Homo sapiens: one gene and its partners. The protein of the gene in region 1 interacts with the protein of each later gene in a pairwise test. Each region holds a gene or a part of one and is shown in the gene's direction. Other genes may lie near its edges.

Evidence for each region.
Region 2: the proteins of NAPB (region 1) and SNAP29 interact in binary tests that used the Homo sapiens proteins (3 or more experiments, as listed by UniProt).
Region 3: the proteins of NAPB (region 1) and SYT1 interact in binary tests that used the Homo sapiens proteins (3 or more experiments, as listed by UniProt).
Region 4: the proteins of NAPB (region 1) and STX5 interact in binary tests that used the Homo sapiens proteins (3 or more experiments, as listed by UniProt).
Region 5: the proteins of NAPB (region 1) and TAF1B interact in a two-hybrid assay, tested with the Homo sapiens proteins (one large-scale study listed by BioGRID and IntAct).
Region 6: the proteins of NAPB (region 1) and DSCAM interact in a two-hybrid assay, tested with the Homo sapiens proteins (one large-scale study listed by BioGRID and IntAct).
Region 7: the proteins of NAPB (region 1) and STX6 interact in binary tests that used the Homo sapiens proteins (3 or more experiments, as listed by UniProt).

The regions. Positions count from the first base shown.
Region 1 is NC_000020.11:23,393,989-23,397,488, reverse strand, and holds part of NAPB (beta-soluble NSF attachment protein), read left to right. Parts: intron 1-288; coding exon of another isoform or gene 289-300; coding exon 301-417; intron 418-2,021; coding exon of another isoform or gene 2,022-2,212; exon of another isoform or gene 2,213-2,263; coding exon of another isoform or gene 2,264-2,303; coding exon 2,304-2,350; intron 2,351-2,489; coding exon 2,490-2,567; intron 2,568-3,500. UniProt on the Homo sapiens protein: Required for vesicular transport between the endoplasmic reticulum and the Golgi apparatus.
Region 2 is NC_000022.11:20,865,507-20,869,006, forward strand, and holds part of SNAP29 (synaptosomal-associated protein 29), read left to right. Parts: intron 1-3,500. UniProt on the Homo sapiens protein: SNAREs, soluble N-ethylmaleimide-sensitive factor-attachment protein receptors, are essential proteins for fusion of cellular membranes.
Region 3 is NC_000012.12:79,284,274-79,287,773, forward strand, and holds part of SYT1 (synaptotagmin-1), read left to right. Parts: intron 1-1,513; coding exon 1,514-1,698; intron 1,699-3,500. UniProt on the Homo sapiens protein: Calcium sensor that participates in triggering neurotransmitter release at the synapse. May have a regulatory role in the membrane interactions during trafficking of synaptic vesicles at the active zone of the synapse.
Region 4 is NC_000011.10:62,811,552-62,815,051, reverse strand, and holds part of STX5 (syntaxin-5), read left to right. Parts: intron 1-3,500. UniProt on the Homo sapiens protein: Mediates endoplasmic reticulum to Golgi transport.
Region 5 is NC_000002.12:9,930,474-9,932,694, forward strand, and holds part of TAF1B (TATA box-binding protein-associated factor RNA polymerase I subunit B), read left to right. Parts: intron 1-2,221. UniProt on the Homo sapiens protein: Component of RNA polymerase I core factor complex that acts as a GTF2B/TFIIB-like factor and plays a key role in multiple steps during transcription initiation such as pre-initiation complex (PIC) assembly and postpolymerase recruitment events in polymerase I (Pol I) transcription.
Region 6 is NC_000021.9:40,333,159-40,336,658, reverse strand, and holds part of DSCAM (cell adhesion molecule DSCAM isoform CHD2-42 precursor), read left to right. Parts: intron 1-3,500. UniProt on the Homo sapiens protein: Cell adhesion molecule that plays a role in neuronal self-avoidance. Promotes repulsion between specific neuronal processes of either the same cell or the same subtype of cells.
Region 7 is NC_000001.11:181,002,371-181,005,870, reverse strand, and holds part of STX6 (syntaxin-6), read left to right. Parts: intron 1-407; coding exon 408-577; intron 578-3,170; coding exon 3,171-3,265; intron 3,266-3,500. UniProt on the Homo sapiens protein: SNARE promoting movement of transport vesicles to target membranes. Targets endosomes to the trans-Golgi network, and may therefore function in retrograde trafficking.

The DNA.
Region 1 (3,500 bases):
GAGTAGCCCAAGACTTGGCTACTGGTATTGAATGGACAGATCAGGGAATAGTGGCTTAGTGCCCAGGGACACTTGGAAAGTCTGCTGGAGCTGAGGTGGAGAAGCTTTCATCGCTGTTTGACTTGATTCTGGTTATTTTTATATTTGCCCGAGGTGCACTGGACCACATGGATTTTTGCTTCTGACTAGAATGCTTCTTTTCAGTGGAATATAATTTTTCTAGGGAGGTCCAGTGCTTACAGCATGGGCTGCTCTGGGGGGGACTTGTTCCTCTGTGTTTAATTGTAGTGTCTTCTTCAGCTGCAGGAAACGCATTTTGTCAGGCAGCCAAGCTCCACATGCAGCTTCAGAGCAAACATGACTCTGCTACCAGCTTTGTGGATGCTGGAAATGCTTACAAAAAGGCAGATCCCCAAGGTAAGACAGCCAGGCATGTAGCATGCTATCTCTGTGTGTAACTAACCAGTCAGTACTTCCCTCAACGTTAAGGTCAGTGTTGGTGTGCTTTCAAGTCCTGGTAAAAAGGAATTTTTGTATTTTGGAATAATAGAGAATTTTGATAACCTTAGGGATTTTTCTTTTTTAATCATTTGGGGGCTTTTATGAGGAGAAATTATGTTAAATTTATACTGGCTGTTTACTTTATAGCATCATTTAATTAAACTCTTATTTATATTGCATTTTAGAGAATTTTTTGGAAATTACCTTTAATTTTATCTAAGACTTCTTATATCTTAATTTTGTGAAAATGTATATTGTTCATAAAAGGAAACTCTTATGTTCCCTTACTCCTAAATACCTAAGGAGTTTTCAGATCCAGTTAATGGGAGATTGTAATATTCAATCGTTAAAAAGTCTGATTCATACAGTATTCATTTGGTTTTTTAAAAAGTTTTTCAAAGTATTTGTTTTGAGGAAAGAATGCAATTGGATATTTAATGTGGTAAAATTTTGCAAAGATTATTTCTTTTTAGTTAGAAGAGTGTAATTAAAAGTATTAATTTCTTACCTTCCACACGCGTGCACAGCGGAAATTTTGTGTTTTTCCTTTTTCTTTTAGCAGTCCATTTTGTTTAACACACAGATCCCAAATTTTGAGAATAAATATGTCATAAAGAAATAGGGTATCTTCAATACCTTTGGTATAAGGGTTAATCACAGTTTATTTCCCAAAGTGACAAACTGGACACAGGTTAAATAAGCTGTTAGAGTGGTAACATTGTAATGCATCAGTACTTTAGAATATGGTGCAGGCATTAAAATCCCTGGTTTCAGAGAATCTTCAGTGACCTGGTAAATGTTTACATGTCAATTAAAGAAGCACATGAGACTGAATGTTGTATAATCTCATTTTCAGAAAAAAGTTTGTGCATATAGAAATGTGTCTAATAAACGCAAAAGGAAAGTACATCTGAGTACTAACAACGGATTTGAGCGGGATTATTGATAGATTATTTTTCTCTTTATATTCTGTATTTTAAAAGGTGTAACAGGGATCCACATTTTTTATGTAGTTTAGAGGGAAATTGTTTTAATTTTTGTTCATCTGCTTACCTTTCTAATTTTGTAGTCAGGCCTTTCTACTTTGCTGCCTCTTTAAACCAAACGTAATAAACTTGGAGCTGTCACTGTATGCCAGCATCATAAACACCATCATTTTATGATAGGGAAAATTTTTTGGCTCACTTGTTTAGAAAATTAGTAAAATTTATTAGCATTATTATTTATTAGATTTGTTTCTTCATTTTGTTAGTATGCTACAATTTAGCATCTTTGAACATTATACAGAATGTTGACTTTGCTTAAGGGTTGTTTGAATAGGCATTTCAAAGTGCTTTTGCTTTTGGCTGCATGGAGAGTAGAATCTATTGAGGTGATTGTTCTTGTGATGTGGTGCCATGTTCCAAAATTAATATATATGCATGGTATTAATGAGGAATATGTTTGCATTCATATTTTAGCAGATACAATTTATCAGTGTTGGTGACAACCTCTATGGTTTTATTTTCTTTATAATACAGTCTTTTGCCTGGATGGAGTCCTCACTTTAAGGTTAAGAGTAACTAAGCCAATGTTACTCCAGCTACAGTTCCCTAAATTATACTATAGCTGCTGGGAACAAAGCCATGCTGATGAATCTGGACTTGTGCATGATTTTTGTTTGCTTCTCATTAACCTGCCCACCCTCCACTCCAAAATTATACCTCATTAACGTTCTGATAACAGCCAGGAAGACAGCCTCACCTGAACCCTCTTTGACTGAATGGATTTTTCATTGTTTTTCTTAAATGCCTACGCTTCAGAGGCTATCAACTGCTTAAATGCAGCCATCGACATTTACACAGACATGGTAAGACATTGCATTGCTTGAGTGGCTGTGGGGTGGAGTCTTGAGATGGCTTAGAGTTCTATCTTTCTTTTTTATGTTCCCAAACTGGCATTCAGATAGGTAAAATCGGTGTGTGACTGTTTCTTGTTTTTTCCCCTAGGGAAGGTTTACAATTGCAGCCAAGCACCACATTACTATTGCAGAGATCTATGAGACTGAACTTGTAGACATTGAGAAGGTAAGCAGTGGGCACACTTCCTCAGATGTGAAGCAGGCAGATAAGCTGACTCAAAGAACTCTCCTCTCCTCAGTCTGAGAGTGATCGTAGGTGTAGAGTGGTCATAGATGGCCTTGCCTGGAGACTTTCTGGCAAAGTCTACTAGCTGGCTAAGTAGATGGGCTGTTTTCCTGGAGTGGACATCTAAGACATGAGAGCTGATTAAGATTTACAGAGATCACCTGTTGTTTCCACTCTCTCTGATTCATGTCAGAACATTAGCATTGCCAAAAGAACCTTCAGCTGTATTGCTTAGTACTCTAAGGCCCAGTGAAGAAAGTGTAAGAGGTCACCTCTGTACACTCAGTCAGCATCACAGCTTTAAGTATCTGTGTGCCAGTGACTCAGAAATCTGACTGCAGCCTAGACCTCTCTCCAAATGCTAGATTACTGTATCCACCTGCCTGCTGACCTCTCCACTTTGTCCAGCAGTCATCTCTAACCCAACATGTCTGGGACTGGATTCTCAGATGTCCCCAACCCAGTGTTCCCCGCTAAACTACAGGCTTCCTTGCCTTTTCTCTTTCTCTACAACCTGTGAGCAATTTTTGTGAGCGGTGTCCTTCCTGCTCCCAAGTCTTGGCACAACTCACTACCTTGTCTCTCAGCTCACACTTGATCGCTGCAGGATCCTTCAAACCGGTCTCCCTGCTTTTGCTCTCCCTACCTTGCCAACCCCACATCCCCATGCCACAGAGTAGCCAGAGTGAGCCTTCTAAGCATTGCATCATACTCTGTTTCTCTACTGCTGACAGTCATTAGACCCCTTTCACTAAGAGGAACAGCTGGAGCTGTGCAGAGCCTTCATGGGTCCACTGAATTGCTTCCTCCCAGCCCCACACTCCCCATGCATCTGTGTGGCCTGGCCTCTCCTCTTTTCTGTTATTCTCCTCC
Region 2 (3,500 bases), on another chromosome or scaffold:
ACCTTGCTTTGCTGACCAGGAAACATGCTGTGACAAGCTGAGCGGCCATCTGCTATACAGCTTTCTGCCTCTGAGGTGTTCTTAGAGTGGGAAGTGTTGTAGGGAGGTGTTTGGGGGTTCCCAAGACTACCCTCAACTTCACTGATTCACTGGAAGGATGCACAGAACTGTTACACGTATGGTGATGGTTTCTTACAATGAAAAGATGCTGATTAAAACCATCAAATGAAAAAAGTGCATAGGGCAGCGTCCAGGGGAAACCAGGCACAAGCTTCCAGTTGTCCTCTCCCCATGGAGTCATGTGGACAACACTTCTCCAAGCAGTGCGTGACAACACACACAGAGTATTGTCAACCAAGGACCCTCACTTAAGCCTGGGTGTCCAGAGTTTTTTGGGGAGTCTGTCACATAGGCATGGCTGAGTATAGTCTCCAACCCCACCAGAGGTCAAGCTGATAACGTGTAGCCCAAGGCCACCATCATATATCACATTGTTAGCATAGTCTGTCTGACCTGGTCTAAGCTTAGGCTCACTTGAGCAAGGACACTCTTATCAGGCAGGATATTCCAAAAACAAGGAACCAGGCTAGGGCCACACCTCTCTTTGGAATGTGGAGTGTATGGACAACCCAGAGCTGCTGAGCTAGCCTTTTGCTCAGCCCCAGGTTGGCCTGCACACAGACGGCGAGGGGCACCAGCACTACCGCCTTTGCCCTTGGTGGTTTTTCCTGCACCCTAAGACCCGATTTGTCTCTGAATCCACCCCATACTCCAGCTGCCACAGTCAGAGCCCCGGGTTTGAGCATCTGCCATGGGTGCTCACGTATCCCTGCCAAGGCTTGTGCCTGTGCACACTCCCTTGGGAAGGGAGAGATGGAACAAAGATAAATTTCAGATTTCTAGATTCAGCTCACTGACTCCAGATTGGCCTCCGTCTACTTATGATGAACCTCATTTATCAGAACCTGAGTTTACGAGCTCAGTATGAGAAACACAGTATTGATGCCCTTCCGTCAGGAACCTGGGGAGGTCTCGGTCACGGAAGCCCACCTGATGTTATAAGATGTGTTGGCTGCGAGTTGCAGTTGAGATCTGTTGGTCACTGCTGCCCTTTGAAGGCCTTAGTGACATCCTGTGGGTGTTCCCTGCCGAGTCCTGTGGGTAGCCCCGCTCACTCCCCACACGGTTCCTCTGCCCCTGCACAAGCTGCACCCTCTGCCTGGTGCCCTTGCCCCACCCCAACTCTTCGTTGTGATTTGTTTTTAGGAAAACTAAGTCCAAATGGACAGGACCCCCAACTTTCTGACTGCCTAACTTCTCAGTCTCTCCTCCAGCCTCAACAGGGAGCCTCTCTGACCCCCACCTTAAGCTAAACAAAGAGTCTGCAGGGAGAGGTGACTCTGTGTGTGTATGTGTTTGTGTGCACGCGTGCAGTAGCTTTAGTTTCTGCCTCCCCCACAGGACTGTAAGCTCAGTGAAGCAAGGACTCATCTGCCTTTCTTGGATTCCGAGCATTGCAATGTTGTCAACAAATGAAAAGCTGAGATTGAACCTCACTCATCTTGCTCTCTGTTAGACTGTAAACACCATCAGGACAGAGACTTGGGATTGTTTCGTGGACAAAGAGAGAACTCTTGTTGGGGTTCAAGGGAGTAAGAAGGGCATCACCTGTAATGCTTAGTAATCACTGAAACAAGGAAGCACTTTGCATGTGCGTCCTTTACACTGAGGGCACCTGCGGAGCTCACTCCCCTAGCAGCCACCCAAGTCCGTTCAGGGACCTCATTCTCCCACGGGAAGTTGGAGAAGATGGGCCGTGGCTCTGCGGAGGGGGGTGTGGACCTGCCTCGGTACCTGGAGCGGTTGAGGCCTGTCTTGGTGGTGGCTGGGGCACAGGTGTCTGCCTGGCCTGTCCTTACAGACTGTCAGTGTTCTCTTTCCTGGTATTTTGGTGTTTGCTCTGTCAAACCCTTCTTCCTCATTGGTTGGAACTAGGTCACAAGCACATTAAGTCCGGTCATTTCCTCTGCCTTCTGGGGGTGGATTTTAGCAGAAGAAACAACTCCTCCCTTGCTGGCCTCATGACCTCTGGTGAACACTAGCTTTCAGCAAACAGAAACTTCCAGAGGCCAGAGCAGCACTCAGTCGCCTGGCCTTCCAGCCTCACAGGCAAGATAAGCCACCCTCACAGACTTCTCTGTGCTCCCATCTAAACATCTAAATCAGCCATCTGGTTTCCTTAACAGTAGCACAGACTCTGGGAGTTTGAGAGAATGTGTCTCTTGTGAATAAGAGAAAATAAGTCCATACTGGGGAAGGTAGCTCTCCAAATTGAGATGAGGAGGTCAGGGTGGGAGGGTGAGTGGTCGTGGGTTGGCCCTGATGGGAGGAGCTCACCATCAGGGAAGCTGAGGACCTCCCTCCTAATGTGACAGCAGAGTCTTGGCCACCTCTTCATTCCCCAGTCCCCAACCTGGCTGCTCTGAGTGTCTTTCCAGCTACTGGAAAGCTTCTTCTGCAGCCTGCAAAGCTAGCTGGAACTGGACTGTCAGAAAAACATGTAGATGCTGGAGAAAATCTGTTAATCCTAACGTATAGCTCTGCCTTATTCCAGAGAAGACCGCAGTGTGGACATGAAGATGATAAACTTGAGGTGATGGAAGGAGCAGAAATGCCAGATACATTAGCAGCTCTTTTTTCTTTTGAAAACTAGCCCTTGCAAGATTTGCTTGACATACTGAGTGACACTATCCAGAAAACATCTTTTTTTTACTTAAAAAAGGCTGATGGTTTGTTCAGACATCTCTTGTGAACTAGTGAAAAACATAAACGTTGAAAGCTGTAAAATTCAGCAGTTCTAAGTTTATTTCCAGCAAGAGTTAAACAAAGTTTAATAGTAAATTCAACCAACCAGTGTTTTAGCTTTTTGCCTATACATTATGTTTTTAAATTTCACCCATTAAACAAGGACTCAGGTTACACATTGATTCCTTAAGGACTTTAAGGAAGCCACAACCATTTATTTATAGTTGCATTTTGCTCTTCAGGTTTCCAGGATGTTTAAAATTTTTTTTGACTTTGTTTTTAGGCATCAAGAGAGAATATATCTAAAAAACATTTGCATAGTTAGTGTAATTGCTAAGCCACAGGGTGATGGGTGGATAGATTCAGAGGAAGGCAGCTGAGGGCAGAGGCTGCCTGACAGAGCAGGAAAAATGAAGCTCGAGAGCCTTCTGGCTGGAAAGGCAGCTCACAGATGGGCCGCAGCTGTAGATCAGTTCTGAACTAGGGACTGAAGCAAGTTTGTCGTAAATAAAGGAAAGTGGTAGTGTTGATGTTGTGAATGTATATCCACAACCAGAACCATCAGCTCTGGAGGGACCATCAGGCTGCCACTGTGGCCACAGAGCATCACTCACGTCTCCATTGGGCAGATTTGCAGAGACTCAGCAGTGAACAGAGCAAGTCCCTGCCTCGTGGAGCTCATATGCTGTGAGCGG
Region 3 (3,500 bases), on another chromosome or scaffold:
TATCAGAGAGACAACTGTAATAGAAAACTCAATGTTTATTTTAGTATATTTATGTATATATGTTCTATTATTTTAAACAGCCTGTAAACCTAAGCCTCTCCTCTTATCTAAAAATCATCCGTCCTCCTCTCATTGCCTTTGCATTTTCACTAAACTCCCCTCTGTGTATTTATCTTGCTTTTTAGGTATTTACTTGTGTGAGTAGTTTATGTTTTTTCATATGTCCTGAGCTCTCTGCCTTACCCACCATGCCTTGACTATAAAGAAATGATAGCTAACTTTGGCCAGGTGTGGTGGTTCACGCCTGTAATCCCAGCACTTTGCAAGGCCGAGGCAGGTGGATCATAAGGTCAGGAGATCGAGACCATCCTGGCCAACATGGTGAAACCCCGTATCTACTAAAAAAAATATAAAAATTAGCTGGGCATGGTGGCGTGTGCCTGAAGTCCCAGCTACTCGGGACGCTGAGGCAGGGGAATTGCTTGAACCCAGGAGGCAGAGTTTGCAGTGAGCCGAGATCGTGCCACTACACTCCAGCCTGGCAAGAGAGCGAGACTCCATCTCAAAAAAAAAAAAAAAAGAATTGATAGCTAACATTAATTGAGCTCTTGCTATGTTCCAGATGCATTAAAAGCTTTTTAACATATTAATCCCTTTCATCTTTAAGCCAGATGAAATGGGTACCACTGTAATCTTCACTGTATAGAGGAGGAAACAGAAACTCAGAACAGTGAAGCAATCTGAGTAGAGTCACACAGCCTCTAAGTGGCCGAAGCCAAAATCTAAACCTGGGTTAAGAGCCACCGAACACATGAGCATCACCCACATCTGGAGAACTTCAGTGCATACATTTTCCCCATGCTTGATTTTCAAATCACCAAGTACTTTTAATTAACCTTCACTATTGTTATGATTTGACATTTGTTGTTCTATATATACAACTAATATCTGCCCCATACCATGCCAGAACATAAGAATACAACACCTAGTATTTTATAGATGAGTAATAGCAGCTGCCATTTATTAAGCTTTTGCCATGTGCCAGGCACTGCATCTTATTATTTAATACTCAGAAAGATCTATGGGGTACCTACCAATTTATTTCCACTTTAGAGATGAGGAAAGTGAGGCAGAGAGAGGTTAGATGACTTGCCCAAGATCACACAGCTAGTAAATGGTGAAGCCAGGATTTAAACTCAATGGCTGAACTCCAAAGCTTGGCTCTGAATGAGTGAAGAGATGTGTTCCTAGAAATCTAGCTTGGAGAGTCAAGAAAAGTAATAGGGAGGAGATGACATTTGACATATCTGGAAGGGCAAAGTGGGAAAGAAAGGAAACAATACACTCAAGGGAGACAACAACATGGATAAAGTACTGAGGAATGGTGTACCTGCAGCATAACAGGTGCTCAAAAATGCAAATGAAAAAAATGAATATCTTTATAGCCCATGAGTTAAAAGGTTTTCCACATCTAAGTGTTGTATGACTAGTGCTCTCTGTGTGTTTCTTTCAGTGCCACCGTGGGCCTTAATTGCAATAGCCATAGTCGCAGTCCTTTTAGTCCTGACCTGCTGCTTTTGTATCTGTAAGAAATGTTTGTTCAAAAAGAAAAACAAGAAGAAGGGAAAGGAAAAAGGAGGGAAGAATGCCATTAACATGAAAGATGTAAAAGACTTAGGGAAGACGATGAAAGATCAGGTAATGTATTCTTTCTACATTTCTTCTTATTTTGTTTAAAAAAGATAAACAAATGTATTATTTTATGCCATATAATTACAGAAATAAACAACTTCTGGACCCATATCGTTTTTGAGATGCTTTGCAAACCTTTCAGTCATTGTTCAAGATCCCAAAGCATAATGGAAGCATTTGGCAGGGTTTTCCAATCTCCTGAGCATATAGAACAGAAAAGGGCATCCATGATCATCAGGCCCATCTTGATGGGTTTGGCATATGAGAATGATGCCTGAATATTTTGATTACATCTGTTTAACCAGTCTTCATTGCGTTTAGAGTTAGAAAAATCAGATAAAAAGTGCCTGAGTGTTTTGCATTTGGGCAGGGGATCTTTCTAATTTCTACTGTTCATAGTCACTGTTAAATAACTGAGTTTTACGGCTGTTCATCAAACTGGATGAAAGCTGCTTTTCCTACATGTCCATCCAGCTGAAAAATTAATTCTCAAGAATAATGAGTTACATGGGAGAAGGGAGAGAAATATGAGCCAGTTCTAAAGAACACGACAGGATAGAATTTTTGCCTTATGAAAAAGTTTTCTTTCTTATTTCTTATAAGACAAAATTCTCATTTCAATTTAATAAGGACAATTACAACCATAACACTGGTTATAAAATCCATCTGGCTGGGTTATCTTTCCAAGCCCAAAAAAGCTATTTGGATGTTCTTTATGTTGCTATCTGTTTTTGGCTAAATTAATTGGACAACTTGGTTCAAGATAATGTTTACTATTATTAATGATAATTATTAAATGCCTCTTCATTTTTGAAATAATATCCATGTTGAATATCTCTAAAGAATATTTAATTCATATTTTAAAATTAAAATGTAAATGTACAGATTTTTTATAGAATTAACATTTTCAATTATCAATGTTTTCATCAAATACAAAAGTTTTATTTATTCCCAAATAGCAAAATATATAAGCAGTTTTATAAATTCCTCTTATACTATTAATTACTATTAATCAAACTCTTAAACCTGAATCTCCTTAAGAACAATTTAATCAGGTGTTACAACAGGCATTTTAAGTACATTTGCGTTGTTTCCTAGTTCATTACACATTCAGGGACATTAACTCCCCTTCCCAGCTTCAGTTTTAAACTCTTTTTCCTCAAAGACACTATAGTATCTATTGATAATAATTTCACAAAGGCTCATGTTTTACTCCCTGCATTTTTGTTCTGTTTTGGAGCTATGGAATGGATGAAATGCCTGTACTCATACTCAGAGAGTTTTGGCCTGAGCTCGGAGTAGCAAGGGTTTGATTTTTCTGGCAATTTCTAATCACAGTCACAAAAGCCAATGCATAAACGTTCAACTACAGGTGTCTAATAAAGATTTTTCTCTTCAGTTAATTTAAGTAGAAACTAAAATTTCCAGGCATGTCTTACTTTATTTCCACACTTTTCATAGCAAGCAGGACTTGATAAAGATTTCTTTAAACAACTTATTGGGAGATTAAGTGTGGAAATAACCTCCTAGATGGACATGGACTGAATAATATGTATGTTAATTTTATCAATATTGTGAAAACAATAATTTGACAATAGATCACTATCTTTTTCATAATTATCATAAAATTTGAATGTGGTTTCCCTGTGTTCTAGAACTAATTAAAATTACTGAATAATGTTAAGTGATAACGATAGCATTTCTTCCTAGGACAATAAATCTATAATATTTGTGGGATTTGTTCTGTATGATGTAAAATTATAATTTACAGCATAGTGGTGGTGTTTATTACCCCTGTTATGACCTGG
Region 4 (3,500 bases), on another chromosome or scaffold:
TGGCAAGAGAGCAAGACTCCATCTCAAAAAAAAAAAAGACACCCAGTTATCCTATCTGTTAGAATTAACTATTTCCTAATATGTGATATCCAGTGAGGGTTTACATTTTCCCAGTTGTCCCCAAACTGTTTAATAGCTTTTTAAATATTAAATCAGAAAGCCAGGCATAGTGGCTCACACCTGTAATCCCAGCACTCTGGGAGGCCGAGGCAGGCGGATCACCTGAGGTCGGGAGCTGGAGACCAGCCTGACCAACATGGAGCAACCCCGTTTCTACTAAAAACACAAAATTTGCTGAGCGTGGTGGCGCATGCAGGAAAATCACCTGAACCCGGGAGGCAGCGGTTGCGGTGAGCCAAGATTGCGCCATTACACTCCAGCCTGGGCAACGAGCGAAACTCCATCTCAAAAAAAAAAAAAAAATTAGCTGAGCGTGGTGGCACCTGCCTGTAATCCCAACTATTTGGCATGCTGAGGCAGGAGAATCTCTTGAACCTGGGAGGCGGAAGTTGGGTGAGCCGAGATCACGCCGTTGCACTCCAGCCTGGGCAACAGAGTGAGACTCTTATCTAAAAAAAAAAAAAGGAAGAGTCCCGGGTGCGGTGGCTCACACCTGTAATCCCAGCACTTTGGGAGGCAGAAGTGGGTGGATCACCTAAGGTCGGGAGTTCGAGACCAGGCTGATCAACATGGTGAAACCCATCTCTGCCAAAAATACAAAATTAGGGCGTGGTGGTGCATGCCTGTAATGCTAGCTACTTGGGAGGCTGAGGCACTAAAATCACTTGAACCCAGGAGGTGGAGGTTGCAATGAGCCAAGGTTGTGCCATTGCACTTCATCCTGAGCAACAAGAGCGAAACTCCATCTCAAGTAAATTAATTAAATTCTTCCTCTTTTCTGAGCATCGCTATAGGCTTTAATTATAGGTTTTAATGTATTGGTTGTCTTATTATTAGTTAGGGCAATGATTATTGTGAGTGCTCAAGTTGTTCCAAATATGTCTGGTGGGAGCCTAGAGGGTTTAAAAGGCTGAGAGAAAATAAAGGTATGTTAGCATGCCAATGGAAATGATGCAACGGATAAATTTAAAAATGATAATATAGGAGAAAGATGGGAGAATTCTTGAAATGATGTCCTTGAGAAGGTGAAAGGAAGTGGGCTCCGGGGCATAAATCAAGGCTTGGCTCTAAGAGGAGCTGGCGATAGGTGGGAAGACAGAGGCTATTGTAGCAATGCTCGGGGTGGAGCGGCATTTATCTTCAGACCACTTCAGTCTTCTCAGCTCATTAAGAAGAAAAGCCAGTAGAGGAGAGGAGGTGTAGGAGGTTTTAGGAATCCACTCCTGCCCACTTGATCTTATCCCTTTAGCAGGGTCCAACCCTGATTGATCTTTATTCCCCACGGTATCTAGCAGAGTGCTTTTACTCTACGTTGTTGATCATGTGAAACTGAGTGAACACCTACATTTGTATAAAGCCGGTTTCTGAACATCAATCCACTAAGCAGCCTCACACATTTAACTGGCCAAGGTAAAAGAAAACACTTGGAGATTCTGATTCGAGAGATGTGAATGGAGTGGGCTTTTCAGGGAGCTTCATTTTTACAAATTCCATAGGGGGTTCTGATGAGCATCCAGGTTTGGGAACTACTGATTAAAAGAAAGTTTGTTTATTCAACTACTATATGTTGAGCACCAGCCATTTATAAGGTACCGTGAGTACAGCTGTCTTGATCCTAGAGTCAGGAGAATTGACTGATTTTTTTTGTTGTTGTTTGTTTGAGACAGTCTCACTCTGTCACCCAGGCTGCAGTGCAGTGGCATTATCTTGGCTCACTGCAACCCCTTCCTCCCAGGTTCAAGTGATTCTCCTGCCTCAGCCTCCCGAGTAGCTGGGATTACAGGCATGCACCACCATGCCTGGCTAATAATTGACTGATTTTTTTTTTTTTTTTTTTTGAGACGGAGTCTCACTCTGCCACCCAGGCTGGAGTGCAGTGGCAACCTCCGCCTCCTGGGTTCAAATGATTCTTCTGCCTCAGCCTCCCAAGTAGCTGGGACTACAGGCACGAGCCACCATGTCCGGATAATTTTTGTATTTTTAGTAGAGATGGGGTGTCACCATATTGGCCAGGCTGGTCTTGAACTCCTAGACCTCGTGATCCGCCCACCTCGGCCTCCCAAAGTGCTGGGATTACAGGCGTGAGCCACCGCACCCGGCCTAATTGATTTTTATCTATTTCAGCTGAGACCTAGGGAACCCCTTGCAGAATTATGCCATAAACACCATAGCTCCCTGAGCTATGTTGTATTTTGAATATTAGAATATTAAGTCTGGGCGTGGTGGCTCACGCCTGTAATCTCAGCTCTTTGGGAGGCGAGACAGGCGAATCACGAGGTCAGGAGATCGAGACCATCCTGGCTAACACGGTGAAACCCCATCTCTACTAAAAAAAATACAAAAAAATTAGCCGGGTGTGGTGACCGGCGCCTGTAGTCCCAGCTACTAGGGAGGCTGAGGCAGGAGAATGGCGTGAACCCAGGAGGCGGAGCTTGCAGTGAGCCCAGATCACGCCACACGCCACTGCACTCCAACCTGGGCAACAGAGTGAGACACCGTTTCCAAAAAAAAGAATATTATAGAGTCAGTGAAACAGAATTATAAAAGATATGGAGGGCCAGGCGCAGTGGCTCATGCCTGTAATCCCAGCACTTTGGGAGGCCGAGGCGGGCGGACCACCTGAGGTCCAGAGTTTGAAACCAGCCTGACCAACATGGAGAAACCCTGTCTCTACTAAAAATACAAAATTAGCCAGGCATGGTGGCGCATGCCTGTAATCCCAGCTACTCTGGAGGCTGAGGCAGGAGAATGGTTTGAACCCGGGAGGCGGAGGTTGCTGTGAGCTGAGATCGCACCATTGCACTCCAGCCTGGGCAACAAGAGCAAAACTCCATCTCAAAAAAAAAAAAAAAAAAAAAGGTATTTGAGTTCTTTCCTCAATCCATATACATCTAAAATAAAGTTATAGCATATAGGCAACTTTACATTCTAGTCTTCCTTGAAACAGTGTCATAAGTATTTTTCACTGTTAGCATGTGTTTGCTCATTGGTTTAGCAAACATTTGTTGCTGCTGTGAGCTAATCCTGCTGGGTCTGAGGATAAAAGGGTGAAAGACCATTCTGGTCCTCCTGGAGCTCACTAGTAGGAGAGACATAAGTTGACAGTGACAGCTCAGTATGATAGGGCAAGAAGAGAAGGGGATGAGGCTGGGTGTGGTGGCTCATCCCTGTAATCCTAGCACTTTGGGAGGCCGAGGCAGATTACTTGAGGCCAGCAGTTCAAGAAAGCCTGTGCAACACAGAGACCCCGTGTCTATTAAAAAAAAAAAAAAAGGGATGAGAGAACTCAGAGTAGGTACTGCTCCTAGATGGGGCCAAGGGGCCTTCCCAGAAGTGATACCAAGCTAAGACTTGGAGGGAATGCCAGCCCAAAAAGGGGA
Region 5 (2,221 bases), on another chromosome or scaffold:
TTTGAGTGAGTTTCTTAATCCTGAGTTCTAATTTGATTGCACTGTGGTCTGAGAGACCATTTGTTGTGATTTCTGTTCTTTTACATTTGCTGAGGAGTGCTTTACTTCCAACTATGTGGTCAATTTTGGAGTAAGTGTGATGTGGTGCTGAGAAGAATGTATATTCTGTTGATTTGGGGTGGAGAGTTCTATAGATGTCTATTAGGTCCACTTGGTGCAGAGCTGAGTTCAAGTCCTGGATATCTATCCTTGTTAACCTTCTGTCTCGTTAATCTGTCTAATACTGACAGTGGGTTGTTAAAAGTCTCCCATTATTATTGTGTGGGAGTCTAAGTCTTTGTAGGTCTCTGAGGACTTGCTTTATGAATCTGAGTGCTCCTGTATTGGGTGCCTATATATTTAGGATAGTTAGCTCTTCTTGTTGAATTGATCCCTTTACCATTATGTAATGGCCTTCTTTATTTCTTTTGATCTTTGTTGGTTTAAAGTCTGTTTTATCAGAGACTAGGATTGCAACCCATGCTATTTTTGCTTTCTATTTGCTTGGTAGATCTTCCTCCATCCCTTTTTTTTGAGCCCATGTGTGTCTCTGCATGTGAGATGGGTCTCCTGAATACAGCACACTGATGGGTCTTGACTCTTTATCCAATTTGCCAGTCTGTGTCTTTTAATTGGGGCATTTAGCCCATTTACATTTAAGGTTAATATTGTTATGTGTGAATTTGATCCTGTCATTATGATGTTAGCTGGTTATTTTGCCTATTAGTTAATGCAGTTTCTTCCTAGCCTTGATGGTCTTTACAATTTGGCATGTTTTTGCAGCGGCTGATACCGGTTGCTCCTTTCCATGTTTAGTGCTTCCTTCAGGAGCTCTTGTAAGGCAGGCCTGGTGGTGACAGAATCTCTCAGCATTTGCTTGTCTGTAAAGGATTTTATTTCTCCTCCACTTATGAAGCTTAGTTTGGCTGGATATGAAATTCTGGGTTGAAAATTCTTTTCTTTAAGAATGTTGAATATTGTCCCCCGCTTTCTTCTGGCTTGTAGAGTTTCTGCCGAGAGATCAGCTGTTAGTCTGATGGGCTTCCCTTTGTGGGTAACCGACCTTTCTCTCTGACTGCCCTTAACATTTTTTCCTTCATTTCAACCTTGGTGAATCTGACAGTTATGTGTCTTGGGTTGCTCTTCTCAAGGAGTATCTTTGTGTGGTGTTCTCTGTATTTCCTGAAGTTGAATGTTGGCCTGCCTTGCTAGGTTGGGGAAGTTCTCCTGGATAATATCCTGCAGAGTGTTTTCCAACTTGGTTCCATTCTCCCCGTCACTTTCAGGTACACTAATCAAATGTAGATTTGGTCTTTTCACATAGTCCCATATTTCTTGGAGGCTTTGTTTGTTTCTTTTTACTTTTTTCTCTAAACTTCTCTCTTACTTTATTTCATTAATTTGATCTTCAATCACTGATACCCTTTCTTCCACTTGATCGAATCGGCTATTGAAGCTTGTGCATGTGTCACATAGTTCTCATGCCATGGTTTTCAGCTCCATCAGATCATTTAAGGTCTTCTCTACGCTGTTTGTTCTAGTTAGCCATTCGTCTAATCTTTTTTCAAGGTTTTTAGCTTCCTTGCGATGGGTTTGAACATCTGCCTTTAGCTCAGAAAAGTTTGTTATTGCCGACCTTCTGAAGCCTACTTCTGTCAGCTCGTCAAAGTCATTCTCCATCCAGCTTTGTTCCGTTGCTGGCAAGGAGCTGCAATCCTTTGGAGGAGAAGAAGTGCTCCAGTTTTTAGAATTTTCAGCTTTTCTGCTCTGGTTTCTCCCCACCTTTGTGGTTTTATCTACCTTTGGTCTCTGATGTTGGTGACCTACAGATGAGGTTTTGTTGTGGATGTCCTTTTTGTTGATGTTGATGCTACTCCTTTCTGTTTGTTAGTTTTCCTTCTAACAGTCAGGTCCCTCAGCTGCAGGTCTGTTGGAGTTTGCTGGAAGTCCACTCCAGACCCTGTTTGCCTGGGTATCACCAGTGGAGGCTGCAGAACAGCAAATATTGCTGCCTGATCCTTCCTCTGGAAGCTTTGTCCCAGGGGGCACCTGCCTGTATGAGGTGTCAGTCGGCCCTTACTGGGAGGTGTCTCCCAGTTAGGCTGCACGGGGGTCAGGGACCCACTTGAGGAGGCAGTCTGTCTGTTCTCAGAGCTCAAACACCATGCTGTGAGAACCACTG
Region 6 (3,500 bases), on another chromosome or scaffold:
AGTCAGATGCCATATCAACACATTTTCTGTACTCTGTCATCTTAAAATTCATTGGTCTATCATACCCTTGGAAGGAATGTTTTACCCACACATGATTTTGTAACATAAAAAGTTGATCATTTGGAAATGATTGGTTCACTGTGTTACACAGATCTTCCAAATGTTGATACAATTTGTTATACAATATCAAAATATCACAACTACTAACATTACCATGATCTCATCAGAAAGTCTTCAAGTAAACTGTCAAGTTCATGCTGATGGATGCAAGTTTTCTAAAATTCTATTCTTTCTTGAAAGATTCAATTTTATTATTTATAATAAACACCATCAATTGTAATTGTAGGAGTGATGGGCTCATTTATCTGTAAGAAATTGTTTGACAAATAGAAAAGACCGCATAACCATCGTTTTTAGGTAGCCATTCTTTTAAGAAAGAAATGGAATTCCATGAAGAAAAGCAGCTGGTCGAATTTGCAACTCAAGCAAGCACAGACATACTCTGCTTGAAAATAGCCGTGCTGCTCAGGAGGTGGAGGAAACACTGTGCCTTCTTCCCATTTTATTACACAGGACATAGAACATTAAAAATAACGTGAGCTTTAGGGTAAAGATGTAATAAAACTGTTATGTTTCCTGCTTCGTCAAGTGTCTGTAAGTGAATCTGGCATTTTTAAAAAACCAACTCACAGTATGCATCGGTAAACAGTACAATGAATAGTCATCCTGTTAGTGTCCCTGCTGGGATTCATGGTAACGCCCAGCAGTCTCACCCACCATGGCTTTTGCTCCAACAGTGCAAATGTCAACACCATGAGAAAGGCAAACAGCACCTCAGCATTGTCATGAAAACGATTTTCTTCTTACAGATCACCTAAAATTGTCTCAGGGATCCCTACAGGTCTGTGAGCTACATTTTGAAAACATCTAATACAGTGCTAAAATTTTAGTTTATTTTTAATGTTTGACCATTACAAATGAGGCATCAAATGAACTTCTTTATGCATTGGCCTTTGTCTGATTTTAAGATTATTTCTTTCGAGAAAAATTTCCAGAAGTATGACCATTGGATAAATAGGTATAATACTTTAATGTAATTTTTAGGAGACATAGATTTAAACGAAAGCCCTTTGAATCATTAACATTTATTCTTTAAATTTGCCAGATCAGTATAAATGAATGTATTCATCTTAATCCTTTTGAAGTGACAGAAACCAACTCAAACTAGCTTATGGCCAAAAGAATAATTTATTGTCTCTTATAAACAATATATTTATGATTTTAGGAAATAATTCTATTGAATAATTTTTTCTTCAGGAGCTTCTTTTCTTCTGAATACTTATCATATAGTATAAAACTTGTCAGCTCCTTTGCAAGTACTTGCAAACAAAAGAAGGAAAATATTATTTTATGTGGTATTTTATTGCCTGGAGAGAAATGGCAGTTGTTGGGATTTGGGGCTTGCCAAATTTTTCAGAATAGTCGGGAAAAGCTGCCTGGAAAAAGTGAGATTTTGAGCAAAGATGTGAAGGGGTTCAAGACAGCTCATGGATACCTGGGGAAGGGACATCCTAGGTAAAGGGAAGAGATACAACCACGGTGTCTAGAGTTTGCCTGGCAAGCTTGAGGAATAACAGAGAGGCTGGTGTGGTGGGAGCCAAGTGAACAAGAAAACACTAAAAGGCCCTGAGTCAGAAGGAGCAGAACCTTTTCACGGGGGACTTACTAGATCAGGACTTCGGTTTTCAGGACGTGGGGTTTTCTGCTGAGTGAGATGGGGGCTTTATTGGATGACTTTAAACAGAAAAGTCACATGGCCAGACTAAGGTTTTAAAAGGATGCTTTTAGCCAGGCAAGGTGGGACGAGCCCGTAGTCCCAGATACTCCAGAGGCTGAGACAGGAGAATACTTCCAGTCTAGTAGTTTGAGGTTGTGGTTGTGGTGCACTATATTTGCACCTGTGAATAGACACTGCACTCCAGCCTGGGCAACATAGTGAGACCCCATCTCTAAAAAGAAGAAGGACGCATCTGATTCCTGTGCTGAGAATGGTCTATTCGGGGAAAGGGGGCAAGTAGAATGACCTGTTGGAAAGTGAATCCAGGTGAGAGATGATGGTGGCTTGGACCAGGGGGAGAGCAGAGGAGGTTGGGGGTAGAAGACAGACTCCGGATCTATTTCGAAGGTCTATTCAGTCGGTTTTCCTAGTGGTTGGATACAGGTGTGAGGAAAATAAAGACATCAAGGATCAGGTCAGGCTTCTGGCCTGAATATCAGGAAGAATGGCATTGCTTTCTACTGAGTCAGCAGAAGATGCAGTGGAGCCGTTTGAGGAAGGCGATTAGGAGTCTAGTTATCGATGTGTTGAGGTTGAAATACACACTAAACAAAGAAGTGGATGCTGTCAGTAGGAAATTAGATATGGGAGAGTAGAGTTCAGGAATCCAGGCTGCAGATCTGGTGACATCAGTGAATAGATGATGTTCAACACCAAGGCCTGAACAGGACCCTCAGGGGACTTTGTGCACTACACCGCAGATTTTAACTTCATATGTACAGGCTTCCCCAGCCCCCAGTCAGGCTCACATTAGAACCCTTCACCAAATATCTGAAAATAAAGTCTGACAAAAATTCAAACAAGGACTGTTTGAAATGTAAGTTTACCTATTTTTAGATTTCCCAGATTGGCACAGATCCATGTATTGACTATGACCCCATTGGTTGCAAGGTGCGAGAACCCAAATTACCTTTGCTTAAGCAGCCAGGTGCAGAGGCTCACTGCTGTAATCCCAGCTACTTGGGAGGCCTAGGTGTGATGTGGTACGCACCTGTAGCTCCAGCTACTCCGGAGACTCAGGCAGAAGAATGGCTTGAGGCCAGGAGTGCAAGACTGTGGTGAACTACTTCCAAAACACAGTAACAGTTTTACACCATTCGCAATCTTAGCCTTTACTCAGAACTTAGAAGGGTCTTAAATAAAATGACTTCTGAACATTTAAGTTTACATTTTAAAATATTTTAACCTCAGCACTTTGGGAGACCGAGGCAGGAGGATCACTTGAGGCCAGGAGTTTGAGATCAGCCTGGCCAACGTGGCAAAACCTGGTCTCTACTAAAAATACAAAAATTAGCCAGGCATGGTGGCACACACCTGTAATCCTAGATACTCAGGTGGCTGAGGAGGGAGGATGGCTTGAACCCAGGAGGCGGAGTTTGCAGTGAGCCAAGATAGCACCACTGCACTCCATCCTGGGTGACAGGGAAGACTCTGTCTCAATCAATCAATCGATCGATCAGTAAAATGTTTTTAAATGAAATATTAATATATAAAGTAAATTATACTCCAATGGTCAGGATTGTAGTTTATCAAGGCTTTTTAAAAATTAACCTTTACTATTTTCAGTTACCAAGTATTAGGGGAGGGAGATAAGAAATTAGCTAAATTTTAGGAAAAGACTTAGAATTTTGGCTTTCCCTGTGGATTAGGATTGAAAGAGACT
Region 7 (3,500 bases), on another chromosome or scaffold:
AAAGGCCATATTAGGACTTATCATCTGAGTATAAATTATTAATACTGTCACACCAAGTGGAAGCATGTGGGAATGCTCATTGCCCTTTAGTTAATTTGTAGGATTGCTTCATTATACTTTTACGTATAGTCTGTTCAGAGAAAAATATTAAATTTGTCCTTCCCCAACAAACTTGATATTGTAGCTGCTTAAATAATGGCTATTGTATTCCAAGCATCAGCTGAGAACATAATACTCAGACTGTGTATCAAAGTTTTGAACTTTGATATTTGTCTGTGAAGAGCCTTCTGTGGGAATGGTGGTTGCTGAGGATGGTGTATGATCATAAATGTTAACCTAAATCATGCAGTAACTTGACCATGGAATGTTGTCTGTGATTTCTCTCCTTTGCCTCATCTTGATTACAGAGAGGTACAGAAAGCAGTCAACACTGCCCAGGGATTGTTTCAGAGATGGACAGAGCTCCTCCAGGACCCCTCCACAGCAACAAGGGAAGAAATCGACTGGACCACCAACGAGCTGAGAAATAACCTCCGGAGCATAGAGTGGGATCTAGAGGACCTTGATGAAACCATCAATATCCTTTTCTGTGGTGTCTGTGCCATTCGGGATAAATAGACAAATGGACAAGTTTTTCTCCAGTTGTTTCCAGTATGTAGATGAAACATTTTATAATCGATTAATGTTTGTTGCTCTTACTTGTACCATGACATGTTTAAAGTATTTGCCCAGTAACTTAAGGTACAGTAGCCAAATTCTTATACAGTGTGTGACAAATCCTGTACTATAAATGTATATATATATATAAAGGCAGCATAGTGTAATGATTATGACTGTGGACCCTGGAGTCAGATTTCTGGTGTTCAAGTCCTGCCTCCACCAATGTAAAGGGAAAAAAAAAAAACCCTTTTTTTCTTTTTTTTTTAAGTCTCTACCCTCACACTCAAGTCAGTATGATATTTCTGACACTGTCTACTTGGAGATAGCATCAGGTCCACAGGTTAAGAGCTCAGTCCCACAAGACTGCCCCCACTTCAGATGCCAGTTGCAAGCCCTAGGTTGTGACCAGCGCTTCCAACTGACCACGTATAAATTGGAGTTCCCACGACCCCCTCCATAGATCGAATTAATTTAATTTGCAAGAGCAGCTCACAGAACTCCGGGAAACAGTTTCCTTAGGTTTATCCATTTGTTGTAAAGGATATTACAAAGGATACAGATGAATGACCAGATGGAAGAGATGCATGCAAGGTATGGGAGAAAAGGTGCAGCACTTCCAGGCCCTCTTCAGGTGCCTCCAGGAACCTCCACATGTTCACCTATCTGGAAGCTTCCTGAACTCTGTCCTTTTGGTGTTTGTGGAGGATTCATTTCGCAGGCATGATTGATCACATCAGTTGGCCATTGGTGATCAGCTCAGCCTTCAGCCCCTTTCCCCTGGGGTGGGGTTAAGCAGGGGGCTGAAAGCTTCAACTGTCTAATCACATGGTTGGTTTCTCTGGGGACCAGCCCCTCGTCCTGAGGCTATCTAGAAACCCCCAGCCATCAATTATCCCATTAACATACAAAAGATACTCATCTGGAGATTCCAAGGGATCAAGGAGCTGTGTGCCAGAAATGAGGGGGCAGAGACCGAATTTGCATTTATTACAGTATCACAACCAGTTACCATGTGACTTGGGCTCATCACTTAACCTCCTGTGCTTCCGTTTCCTCTTTAGTGGAAAGTTAGGATAACAAGAGTACCTAGCTCATAGGATTATTGGGATTATACAGGTAAAGAGTTTAGAATGGCACCTGGCACACAGCTTATGTAATAGTGTTAGCAGTCATTATCATATAGAGGTCCATACAGGCCAGTGTTACACTTCGGTAATTAGAGATCAAAAAATCTTTTTGTAGACTGTCTTCATGTTTAAGAAGTGATGTTACAGTGCTACCGTCCATTGAAGAGATGTCTTGTTCCATGAAACTGCATTTAGTAAAAGCAGATCTGCTCTGCTAATTCATGGTATTGATGTGAAGTAAGTCCACTGATCTGACTCATGCACTGGAGAACTGTAAAAACTTCATTATATAGCCTTTTTTTCCAACTGGAAATCCCACTTAACCAAAACTTTAGATGGAAGATATGCCACTTGCATGTTCTGAGTTCTGTTTTGTTTTTTCCCTAAGTGAGATAAAACATAAGGAAACCAGCTTCTGTCAGGATCACCTTATAGTTAGCACAGGTTCGTATGCAGTTGATACATGGAGTAAATAATTTTTGTTATTCATGATGACCCTGGTACCTTTTACATTATTAAAAGGCAAGTATGTTCTCTAAAATTAGTGGCAAATATGTGAGGGGGCAGGATCAAAAGCACAGTTACAGGGAGATAATTCTTCCCTTGAGAAAGGAGGGAAGGAAAAAAAGTTAGGGGAGATAGAGAAAATGTGAGATTAAAAAAACAAAAGTTTTAATAGATACTCATCATTCAACCAGCAAGTGTTTATTGAGTATACTATGTGCCAGGCATTTTGTTGGTTACAGAGATTAGATTAATAAACACTATACCAGCCCTCACAGAACTTTGAGTGGATAGGGATGGGGGACAGATGGTAATCAAGTAATAACACAAATAGATACCTGCAGACTATGAACGAGAAGTATAGAGAGCTATGCAAGTGTCTGACATGGTGCGTCGGACCAGGCTAGAGGGTAAGGGAATGAGGGCAGCTTCTCTGAAGAAGGCCCGATCTCTCTAGATTAAGAAGTAGGGTTAGCATCTTGGCATAATGGGAAGTGGTTTGGAATGGCAGGAGAAAAAGGCTTGCAAAAGCTGTCTTAGTAAAGGTGATCAGGAGTCAAAAAAGGATAGACACAAGTGTTGGCAAACAGGAAGAGCCCAGCTCACCTGTGGTCAGATAGCCCTAAGTGTTTGCAGTGAAGCTCATCAGCAGGGGCTATGCTTCCTAACCAGACAGATCATCTCTGTCTTGGAGCAAAGGGATCCTCCCTCCTGTGGCTGTGGGCAGAGGAAGTCTGAGAATGATTGGTGTCCAGCTGACTGTGTTTTCAGAAAGTTTGAGCCAGATTTTATTTGTTTGCATGTGAGAGATTCAGTGAGTTAACAGGATGTTGTCAGGCTTTGATGATGAAATTGTTTTACCTTGACTTTTTGACCTACGCATAGTTGAAGCAAATCCTAGAAAATTTAACCTTGATGCAACTGAATTGAGTATAAGAAAAGCCTTCATTACAAGTACTCGGCAAGTTGTCAGGGTAAGGAATATGATCTTATTGTGTTATCTGTATAAGAAATAGCCAGACTTCTTAGAGCTCTTTCCCTTAATTGTAAACTAATAGGTCACCTCTGAAACCACTTTTTAAATATGAATTAAATGTGAGCTTCCCCATATATAATTTCTCTGATTGGCTGCGCATGGTGGCTCATGCCTGTAATCTCAGCACTTTGGGAGGTGGAGGTGGGTGGATCACTTGAGCCCAGGGGTTTGAA